Homo sapiens: one gene and its partners. The protein of the gene in region 1 purifies or fractionates together with the protein of each later gene. This does not show direct contact. Each region holds a gene or a part of one and is shown on either strand. Other genes may lie near its edges.

The links. The genes of interacting proteins can lie anywhere in the genome.
Region 2: the proteins of CABP4 (region 1) and DCAF6 purify together in Homo sapiens (affinity purification with mass spectrometry; one large-scale study listed by BioGRID and IntAct). This does not show direct contact.
Region 3: the proteins of CABP4 (region 1) and SPTB purify together in Homo sapiens (affinity purification with mass spectrometry; one large-scale study listed by BioGRID and IntAct). This does not show direct contact.

Annotation. Positions count from the first base shown.
Region 1 is NC_000011.10:67,453,854-67,458,153, forward strand, and holds the start of CABP4 (calcium-binding protein 4), read left to right. Parts: upstream 1-1,500; 5' UTR 1,501-1,570; coding exon 1,571-1,936; intron 1,937-2,252; exon of another isoform or gene 2,253-2,283; coding exon of another isoform or gene 2,284-2,334; coding exon 2,335-2,365; intron 2,366-2,445; coding exon 2,446-2,589; intron 2,590-3,719; coding exon 3,720-3,829; intron 3,830-4,300. UniProt on the Homo sapiens protein: Involved in normal synaptic function through regulation of Ca(2+) influx and neurotransmitter release in photoreceptor synaptic terminals and in auditory transmission.
Region 2 is NC_000001.11:167,939,683-167,943,182, forward strand, and holds part of DCAF6 (DDB1- and CUL4-associated factor 6), read left to right. Parts: intron 1-3,500. UniProt on the Homo sapiens protein: Ligand-dependent coactivator of nuclear receptors. Enhance transcriptional activity of the nuclear receptors NR3C1 and AR. May function as a substrate receptor for CUL4-DDB1 E3 ubiquitin-protein ligase complex.
Region 3 is NC_000014.9:64,869,908-64,873,407, reverse strand, and holds part of SPTB (spectrin beta chain, erythrocytic), read left to right. Parts: intron 1-729; exon of another isoform or gene 730-1,086; intron 1,087-3,500.

The sequences.
Region 1 (4,300 bases):
AAGGGAGGGCTCTGGTTCCCATGGGCCCAGGGGACCCGAAGGTAGGGAGTCTGGGGCAGTGGGAACCCCCTCCCCTCCAGCGAGTGTCACTCATGGGCTCAGGATGAGGTCTCTGAGCCTCAGGACCCCACAGCCTGGGGTCAGGAGGGCCATCCTAGGAGCCCCTGGTGCCTCTCCAGCATCTTCCACCCCACCGCGGCCCTCTCCCGCTTCCCACAGCTCAGGCAGGAGGTGACCCCTGTTTGTCTCCTGGAGCTGCTAAAGAGAGGGGGAGGGGCTCTGCAGTGGGATGGTGGTGGGATGGTGAGGGTGAGGGGAGTTGGAGGGCACCCAGACCTGGGATCCAAGAGGCCTGCAGCCCCACCTCGCCCTTCCCCGCTGGCAGCGGGGAGGGAGTTTCCCTTTGAGGGCGATGAGAGCCCAGGTGGTGGTATAGTCTGGGGAGGGAACGGATGCCCTGAAGGGCTGGCCCCTGCCCACGGCCCACGGCTCCAGCCACTTGGCCTTTAGTTTGGTGCCCTCCGTACCCTCAGGGTTCCTCCTCAGGCTGACCCCCTCTGCTGTCTCCATTCCCTATTGGATCAGAGCCCCAGGCACCCCGAGACTGGGGCCCTGACCAGTGAGGCCTGGCTTACCTGGGAGGCAGAGGCCGATGGGTGGAAGGAGCAGGAGCAGGGCGTGCCTGCCTGCCCAGCACTCCAGCTGTCCCCCCGGCCCTCACTGGGGCCTGCTTTGTGGCACCCGGCAGCGCTAAGGCGGGTGGGCAGGAAACCCAAGCTGAGAGGACATCAATTATTTATGGGGCTGCTTGCTGGGAAACCCTAACCCTGGCCCAGTAGGGCCAAGTGACCAGCCAGACCCCCTCCCCCAGCCCTGATGGGCCTGGACAGTCAGACCCTCCTCCCCAGGGCCTCTCTAGCCCAGAGCAGACTCTAAGACCCCAAGGTCCACCTCCTCCCACATCACCCCCCGTGCTCCTCAAAACGGCATTCGAGGCATCTGTGATCTGGCCTCTTCCTCCATTTCACACACCCTCTGCTCTGGCCAGGATGTCACCCATGGGGGGGCCCCAGTAGGCCACTCGCTCATCCTTTCCCACCTCCCAGCCGTTGTCCGCATGCCTCCTGCCACCTGAGATGCCTTCCCTGGTCCTCTCTGCCTAACGAAGGCCTCTGCCCATGTCACACATGAGCTGAGTCTTCTGCGCTCTAGCATTATTCCCCATGTTTTATAGATAGGGAAACTGAGGCTGGGAGGGGAATTTGCTGGATCCCCCAGCTAATAAGTAGCAGATCTGGCATCTGAGGCTCATGGCAGCCACCACGTCCTGGTGCCCCTTGCTTCTGACCAAGGACAGTTCTCTGGACCCATCTGGCTCTGCCCTGGCCAGCCCTGGGGCAGAGGACTGGGATTAGGGCCAGGGCTGCCTGCCTCACTTACCCTAATCCCCCTCAGAGCCCGATCCTAGGCTCTCAGCTCTAAGAGTGGGGGTGCATAAGCAGCTTTATGGGTCCTGAAAGCCAAGGGTGCCCAGGGGTGTGGTGTCTCTGAGCCCTGTTATCCCTCCCCCATGACCACAGAGCAGGCAAGGGGGCAGCAGGGCCCAAATCTGGCCATTGGCCGTCAGAAGCCCCCTGCGGGGGTTGTGACTCCCAAGAGTGATGCAGAGGAGCCCCCGTTGACCAGGAAGAGGAGCAAGAAGGAGAGGGGGCTCCGAGGGTCTCGAAAGCGCACTGGCAGCTCTGGGGAGCAGACAGGCCCCGAGGCCCCGGGGAGCAGCAATAACCCTCCCAGCACTGGAGAGGGGCCGGCGGGCGCACCCCCTGCATCCCCTGGGCCGGCCTCTTCTCGCCAGTCCCACCGACATCGTCCTGACTCCCTGCACGACGCTGCTCAGAGGACATACGGGCCCCTGCTCAATCGAGTCTTCGGGAAGGTTAGGTGGGACCTGGATTGGGCTGGGGGTCCTGGGGGTGGGGCTGGAGACACACCCCTTGGGCTCAGCTCACCCTGCCCCTGAGAGGCCCTCTGCCTCTTCTGCCCCAGACTGAGCCTGGGCTGTGGGGCAGGGTTGCTGCGGTTTGGGGAAGGGTAGGTCTCGGGCCAGCGTGGGCGGTGGGCAGAGCCAGAATTCACACCAGGGCTCTGTGGGAGCTCCAGGCTCTAGGAGCACAAAAGGGAGCTTGCTCCTCCTGGGTCCCACGAGGCTTCAGGGTCCTTTTCCTACTCTGATGGGGCTGGGCCCTGCCCAGGCCAACATGAGCAGGGGATGAAGGAGGAAGGATGACAGAGCCGTGGCTGGCCCTGGGGACATCCTGGACTCTCCCCCTGCAGGACCGCGAACTGGGCCCCGAGGAGCTAGACGGTGAGTGGCTCTTGCTGCTGGCAGGGGGTGGGAGCTGTCCCTGAGCCTGGCCACCTGGGCTTGACCTCCCTCCTCCACAGAGCTTCAGGCCGCCTTCGAGGAGTTTGACACTGACCGTGACGGCTACATCAGCCACCGGGAGCTGGGTGACTGCATGCGGACCCTGGGCTACATGCCCACCGAGATGGAGCTCCTGGAGGTCTCGCAGCACATCAAGATGCGCAGTCAGTCAGGGAGCCCGCCCGCCCGGGCAGCCTGCGTAGTTCAGGGGGTCACGAGGGGCTGGCAGGAGGTGGCCCTTGGGAGTCCATCGGGGTGCTAGTGGGAGTGAGGGAGGGTGGCGGTTTCCAGGCAGGGGCACCGGGTTCAAGCTCCTGCCTCTCTGTGTGGGAAGGCAGGCCAGCAAGGCGGCCCGGAGACCCAGGAGAGCCCCTTGGGGCTCAGGTTGAGGACCCTGGCTCGGGATGTCTGTTGCCATGGCCACTATACACATTTGCTCCTTTCACCCGAGCCCTTCCTGCCTCGCTGGCCCAGAAGCCCCTGACTCAGTGATAAAGTGCTGTCCGCTGATACTAGTCACCTGGCACCTTCTCTCTTTCTCTCTCTTTCTGTGACCCTGCCTCAGCCCTGTGCCCTGGTGGCAGCTGCCTGAATTGGGGTCGCCCTGATGGGAGAGGACCCCACCTATGCCTTGCGACTCAGTGTCTGATGGCAGGAACTGTGTGGTTCCCCTTCGCTGGTTTGTCCTCAGACAAATCTCATATTCACTTCATTCCAGGACTCCTGCATTTTTTCCTTAAAATTCCCAAAATGGGGATGTGATTTACAATTGAGCTGGACATTTGGTGTCATGCTTTTCTGTCCCCAAAGCTGTTGGGTGACCATGAGTGCTTTGAGTGACTGATGGCATCTTAGAACTGAGGCACGGACCACATGGGTGTGTTCGGAGGTGGCATTTATTGCTGCCCACTGGGCTCCAGTACTTCATGGCCATGAACCTGAACCCCATGGAGTAGGCTCCTCACCCTGCTCCTAGGATGAGGAAGGGAGGGCAGTAAGTCAGCCAATGCCACGCACATCAGCAGCAGGGCCAAGATTTGAACCGGGCACTATCTGGCTCCAAAGCCTGGTCTCTTCCTTGCACACTTGGGTTCTCCACTAAGAGCAGAAGCAGCCCTGGTACCCCAGCAGCCAAGGACGGGGGTTCCAGCCTCCTATCTGCTGCAGGCGTGGACACGGGTGTTTCTTCCTAGGTGCAGAGCCTGGGGGTGGGGGTGCCTGGCCTGTGGGATGTCCCTCCTTGGGCTTCAGACCTTATGCCCTCACCATTGTGACACTCTTCCTGGGTCTGCAGTGGGCGGCCGTGTGGACTTTGAGGAGTTTGTAGAACTGATAGGCCCAAAGCTGAGGGAGGAGACGGCGCACATGCTGGGGGTGCGAGAGCTGCGCATCGCCTTCCGAGAGGTGCGGAGTGTGGTGAGGTGGGCAGAGGGGGGCAGGGCTGGGTGGCATCCTTGCTGGCCTCTCACTCAGGTCTCAGCCTTGGGAAGGCCTAGAGCCCTGCAGGCGGTGGGACTGGGGCCCAGGGATGGGTCAGAGATGGTTCAGATCACTACCAGCTAGAGGATCCGTCCAGGGGGACTTCCTGGAGCAGGAGGCAAACCACCTTGGTGTGGGAGGGTGTGGAAGGTGTGCATGGGCAGAGATGGTGGGCAGGGGAGCATCTAGGTACAGGCAGCGGTAAGAGTGGAACTGGCTGGCCAGGCGCGGTGGCTCACGCCTGCAATCCCAGCACTTTGGGAGGCCAAGGTGGGCAGATCACCTGAGGTCAGGAGTTTGAGGTCAGCCTGGCCAACATGGCAAAACCCCATCTCTATTAAAAATACAAAAATTAGCCAAGGGTTGTGGTGGGCACCTGTAATCTCAGCTACTCAG
Region 2 (3,500 bases), on another chromosome or scaffold:
AACTTGGGAAGTGGAGGTTGCAGTGAGCCAAGATTGTGCCACTGCACTCCAGCCTGGGCGACAGAGGGAAACTCTGCGTCATAAATAAATAAATAAATAAATAAAGTATGGTACACTTATAAAGCCTTCCTTTTAAAAGTCAAATTCCAAGTTAGGATTTTCCTAAGGAAATAGATTCCTTTTTTAAAAGACTTCAATATTTAAACATTACGATTGTCTATCTACAGGGTTGTAGATTTAAGTATTTTTCTGATACATTTTCATTATTTGTATTTCTACAGATTTTTTAGCAGTGAATTACTGCTAAATAGTAAAATTGGGATAGAACAAATAGATAAATTTTTCTTGTAGCCTTTACATTTCCAGTTATTTCACCATAGCATGTGCCCTTTCAATGTTAATATTCAAGCTTTGTAATTGATTTTACTTAAACTGATTAATTATCTCCTTTCTTCCCATCAAAGAAAATTATACTTCAGAAAACTTCCTATTATGTTGTGGGAATGAAGATGAATAATTTCCCAGATGTTATTTATGATTAAAAGATATGTTTACTTAGAGCTCCCAAATCCACAAGATTCACCTGGGCCAACAGAGTGTTGTTTTAGACTAGCATGGATTTAGAGGATAGGCCAGGGATTTTAATCTTTGTGAGCCCTATCTAAATTTCAATGTAGGATTCTTTTTTTTGGTGGGAGGCGGGGGGCAGGGTGAGGCAGGGTTTTGCTCTGTCTCCCAGGCTGGTGTGCAGTGGCACCCTCATGGCTCACTGCAGCCTCCACGTCCTGGGCTCAAGGCCATCCTCCCACCTCAGCCTCCTGGAATTTTTTTTTTTTTTAAAGAATAATTATCAAAGTCAGAGATACCTGTAGGTTTAAATGTTTAAATGTAATAGTTTCTCAAATTACTGTATACTAGGTGTAGAGTAGTGCTTTTGGAAATCAGTGATTTATTAGCCACACAGATTTTATTATCCCATATATATACGGTTTTGTAAAGATAAACATTGTTAATAAAATAAACTTATTTCAATACATTGCTTGTTTCTACTCATATTTCTTTCCTTTTGGACAGACACTCCTACAACTTTCTAACCCTTCTAAATTAAAAGATAGTAATTGATAAAAAAGTAATTTTAAGGTACTTCTCAAGGGAGTTATTTATTATAATGTATAAAATGTGTAAATTATGATTAGGCAGCCAGTGACAATTTTTTAGTGGAGATTGAATCTCATCTTTTTGTAAGGAGTTTATGAAGTCAGTGTCCTTTGAATATCATTAGAGTCAGTATGTACTGAAATGGATAATTTTGCGTGTCGATTACTCTTTAGTGCATCTTGAATACATCTGCATTCTAGATTACCAGGTTCTTCATAATATGTTGCCAAGTTACAGTGTATTTATTATATGAAGATTAGTAACTTCTGACTTTTGCCTCTTTTTTTAGCCATTGGGGAAAAGTTAGTGAAATATTTGTATTTTGTTTCTTTAGTCTTGAAATTTCAGTGAAAGCTGAAAAATGTATGATTTTAGTATTGAAAAATGACGGTCAATTGTGACAAACGTAAGATATACTGATAATTCCTTAAGGCAGGACACCAAAGGCATATAAGTAATCATAACAACCATAGACACTATGATAGCTCTACTGTGGGTTTCATTGCTTCCTAAAATAGGATGAATCAAGTTATAAGTGCTTAGAAGGTTTAGAAGCTTCTGGTAGCATGGAGCTTATGTTACAAGTATGCTTTAGGTCAGTGTTTTTAAAATGTTTTAAAAATGATCCATGATAAAAGTACATTTATGTGGCAACCTGTGATATACACAACGAAAATAAAGGATTCTCTAGGTGTATATATAAACCTTACTAGATGGGATGCATTCTGTTTTTTTTCATATTGTTACAACTGTTGGTGTTGAACTGGTAGAGTACGCACTAATGAGTCTCAGCTTGAGGTTTGGAAAATTGTTCTAGATGGTGTGTAGTTCTTGTAATTTAATGTTGCTTCAGGTTTAAGGTGGGCAGGCTTCCCCAAGTACTTGAAGGAGATTAAAAAAATTTTTTTTTAAACACTGCTGATGGCTCCACAGGGAAAATGTAAATAGTGAAACTTCATGTACATCTTGGACAAAATAACTAGGGTCGAACACTTTTAAATAGATATCTATTGTGGGATTGCTGACTTGTATGGTAAGTATGTTTAACTTTATAAAAAACTTCCAGACTGTCTTCCAAAGTAATTCTACCATACTGCATTCCCACCAGCAGTATATGAGAGTTCCAATTGCTCCACATTCTCATCAGCATTTGGTGTAGTGAGTCTTCCTAATTGTAGCCTTCATGGTAGGCGTGTAGAAATATATCATTGTTTTAATTTGCATTTCTCTTTTTTTGTTTTTGAGACGGAGTTTCGCTCTTGTCGCCCAGGCTGGAGTGCAATGGCATGATCTTGGCTTACCGCAACCTCTGCCTGCTGGGTTCAAGAGATTCTCCTGCCTCAGCCTGCCAAGTAGCTGGGATATGGGCATGCGCCACCATGCCCAGCTAATGTTGTATTTTTAGTAGACATGGGGTTTTGCCATGTTGGTCAGGCTGGTCTCGAACTCCTGACCTCAGGTGATTGACCTGCTTCGGCCTCCCAAAGTGCTGGGATTACAAGCATGAGCCGCTGCGCCTGGCCTTTAATTTGCATTTCTCTAGTGGTTAATGATGTTGAGTATCTTTTGTGGCTTTTGTTTTTGTCATCCATATAGTCTGGTTAAATGTTCAGGTTTACCTTTTTAATATTGTAAGAATTCTATAATTCTTTATATAACAGTCCTTAATCAGATATGTACTTTACAAATATTTTCTGTCAGTTTATGTCTTTTTCTTAACAGGTTCTTTTATAGTTCATACTTTTTATGTCCTATCTAAGAATCTTTACCTAATCCAAGGTAACAAAGATTTTTACTTTTTTTTTCCTGGAGATTTTATCTTTTTACCTCTTACATTTAGGTCTGTGAACAATTTCGAGTTAAGTTTTACATATGTTGTAAGAGTCAAGTTTCATTTCTTTGCATATTAATGTGCAATTGATCTAACAGTGTGTGGAAAGACTACTTTTTTCCCTTTGTTGAAAATCAATTGACCATAAATGTTTAAGTCAATTTCCTAGCCACATTCCATTGATCTAGCTTCATGTCTTTATACCGAGGATTGAAATCAGCTAGTGTGATACTTTAAACTTGGTCTTTTTTTTGAGACAGAGTCTTGCTCTGTCACCCAGGCTGGAGTGCAGTGGCTCGATCTTGGCTCACTACAAGCTCCGCCTCCTGGGTTCACACCATTCTCCTGCCTCAGCCTCCCGAGTAGCTGGGACTACAGGCACCCGCCACCACGCCCGGCTAATTTTTTTGTATTTTTTTAGTAGAGATGGGGTTTCACCGCGTTAGCCAGGATGGTCTCGATCTCCTGACCTTGTGATCTGCCCGCCTTGGCCTACCAAAGTGCTGGGATT
Region 3 (3,500 bases), on another chromosome or scaffold:
AGCCTCTTTTTGTCCAGTGATCTTGAGGGCCTTGATTTGTATGTCAGTCTTCAACAAATATTTACTGAGTTCTCATTTAATTTGCCAGACATGCTGTAGGCCCAGGGAATGTAACAGTGAATGTGGCAAAAATGTCTGAAGTCGTAGAGTGCACATTGTAGTTGGGGGAGAGAGGAACTAAATGACAAGCAACAGACAAAAATATATATTGTAATTTCAAGTGCTAAAAAGAAAAATAAAGCAATATGAAGGGAAAGAAGGGTGGTTCTACTATTTCAGGTAGGGTGGTTGGGAAAACACTATCTGATGGGGCTTCATTTGGGCTGAGACTCAAATGAAGTGGGGAGAGAGGCATGGGATGTTTGGGAGAAGAGATTCAGGTTGAGTGGTAGTCTGTTCTCACACTCCTAATAAAGACATACCAGAGACTGAGTAATTTATAAAGGAAAGAGGTTTAATTGAATCACAGTTCAGCATGGCTGGGGATGACTCACAATCATGGCAGAAGGCAAAGGAGGAGCAAAGGCATGTCATACATGGTGGCAGGCGCATGTTCAGGGGAACTGCCCTTTATAAAACCATCAAATCTCATGAGACTTCTTCACTATCACGAGAACAGCACAGGAAAACCCACCCCCGTGATTCAGTTACCTCCCACCGGGTCCCTCCCACGACATGCAGGGATTATGGGAGCCGCAATTCAAGATGAGATTTGGGTGGGGACACAGACAAACCATACCAAATGGGAAGCCCCCAACGTGGGGCCACTGCTGTGTCCAAGCAATAGCAAAGAGGCCAGTGTGGCCTGAGTGCAGGGTGTCATGGGGAGAGCTAACCACAGTGCTGGAGAGAAAAGCGGGTCTTGATGGTGCAGGCTTTGTGACCTTTGAGTTTTAGTCCAAGTGTCATAGGAAGCCACTGGAAGTTGTGGGCAGGGGAGTGACTTGTTGGGATTTGTGTCTCAAGCAGATCTTTCTGGCGGCCCTAAGGAGGATTGATTGTGGGGCACAAGAGTGGAGGCAAGGAGTCCCATGAAAGCTACTGCGGTGGTTCAGGACGAGAGGATGGATCAGGATGATAGTCCTGGTGAGATGCAGTTGGGTTCTGAGTATAGAGATTATGAGATTTGGATATAGAGGATGAGAGAAAAAGAATAAGATGATTCCATTGTTTTTGGCCTGAACAACTGGATGAACAAAAAGGTCGTTTACTGAGATGGTGATGTATTTTATCAAATGTACCATGGGCTATTTTTTTTTAATTTCTGTTTTTGTCGAGGTGTTGACTTGGAATAGTCTTGGCAGACTTTTCATTTAAATACACCAAAAAGGAGATGTTTTTATTTTGGGATGATTCATGACATCTGTTTGAAGCGAAGCTTTAGATGTGCTGTGTACTTTGTACTGTTACTTTTAGATCAGTCCCACAACGTTTATACTATGTGATGGAGATTAAGATATGGGAGAAACAAGATTGAAATATATTTCACTTTATTTTTAGAAATGTTTTGAATTGGCTGGTTAAAGCCCAAATATTTTTTGATGCTTCCTGGTTGTCATATTTAAAAAACTTTTTAAATTATAAAATAAACTCATGTACGTGGTTAAAACATATATCCATATTATACAAGGGTATACAATGAAGAGTAAAAGTCTTCTCCTAACTTCAGCCCTATTTCTAAGAAGGTACCACTGTCAACAGTTTCTGTGTATGCTTTGAGAAGAATTCCATTCATGTGCAAGCATTTGGCCTGATACATTTTAAAGTCATAGCTTTAAGCTAGCAGCACCACGTGTTAGGTTTCAGATTTAGTAGACTTTGTAGTCACCTTGGTAGCCCTCAAGTTAAGCGACCTGGAGTCCACTTTCTATCAACTAAGGATCTCCCTCTCCAAACCATCCCACACTGAACCACTGTGTTCATCATATAACACCCCTTCTCAAAAGCCACCAGTGGTTCTTCTCTGGGTAGAGGTAGAAATCCAAACTCATAAAGTTGGCTTTTAAGGAGCCATTCTATTCTGGCACCAGTCTCTTTTTTTCTACTCTTTTACCACTTTCCATCACAAACCCTCTACTTAAACTAAGTTTGTCCACTTCTGCTTACTGAGTCCTGACCATTTCTCCCAGATTTGGAGTGTTTTCCATCAGAACTTGGGTTCGAGGCTGTGTCTTCGTCCTGGAACACTCCACTCCACAGTAATCTCTCCCTTCTTCAAACTTGCTAAATTAGGGCTAGATACATGCACCCTATTTGAACATAATCACAAATTCTTTTATTAACTTTCTTTGTATATGTGTATTATTTGCTCAAATATATGTGACATAAATTTTACCATTTTAACCATTTTTAAGTGTACATACAGTTCAGTGGCATAAGCACATTCACATTGCTGTGCAGCCATCACCATCATCCCTCCCCATCATCATGAAAAAGATGGACGTTTTTCATCTTCCAAAACACAAGCACTGTGTCCACTAAACACTAACTCTCCATTCCCTCTCCCTCCATCTGTCTATGGACACTTGGGTTGCTTCTACTCTTGCCTATTGTGAATAATGCTGCTGTGAACATGGGTGGGCAGATATCTCCTTGAGACCTTGCTTTCACTTCTTTTGGACATATACCTAGATGTGAAATTGCTGGATCACATAGTAATTCTATTTATAATCTTTTAAGGAACCCGTCCATGCAATTTTAATATTTCCCCTTGGTATTTAACATCTCCAAAGGGAAGGGCAAAAATTTATTATCCTCATTTTGGGGGCCAAACTGAACTTGAGAAGTGTTTGTTTCAGAACACTGTCTTTGGGTGATAGTTCGTCATCAAAGTTCTTGAATTTGTTCATTTATTAGTGTGCCTGTTTTTAGATTGTAGACTTTTAGAGGACAGGCAGGTGATGTTTAATTTGCTTTGTAGAGCATGTAGCCCAAGCTCAGGTGGGGAAGGGTGTAAATATTATGCGATGTTTTATTTCAGCTAAAAAATCTCCTTGAGCTGGATGACAAGAGTCTGGGTTGCTTCCAGCTCCTTTCCTCTTGCTGTTTGCCCTTGGGTGAAGAACTTCCTCTTTCTCTGACTTTTTTTTTTTCAGGGCTTTTTGTGTGTGTGATTGTGATGGTGCCTTAACATTTATTATTATCCTTAAAATTTTCCTTGTGGATTCCTCTGTAAAACTTACATGTTGCCTTCTCTTTGTAACCTTGCCTGACAGCCCCTCTTCCTTACCAGGTCCTGGGGTAGCGCTGATTGCTTCCTCCTTTGTATTTTTACAGTACCCTTTTCACTCCTTTCTTACAGGTGGATCATCTTGTTTTGTAATTGTCAACTTGCCTTCTACACTGTTAGTTCAAGCTTCTTGCAATGGGGAACTGAGTCTCATGCTTAAAAACAAAACAAAACAAAACCTCTGCACCTAGAGCCATGTTTTATACATGGAGGGGAGTGGCTCAGAAATATTTGTTGATTAAAAAATTAGGCTGGAAACATCAGCTCATGC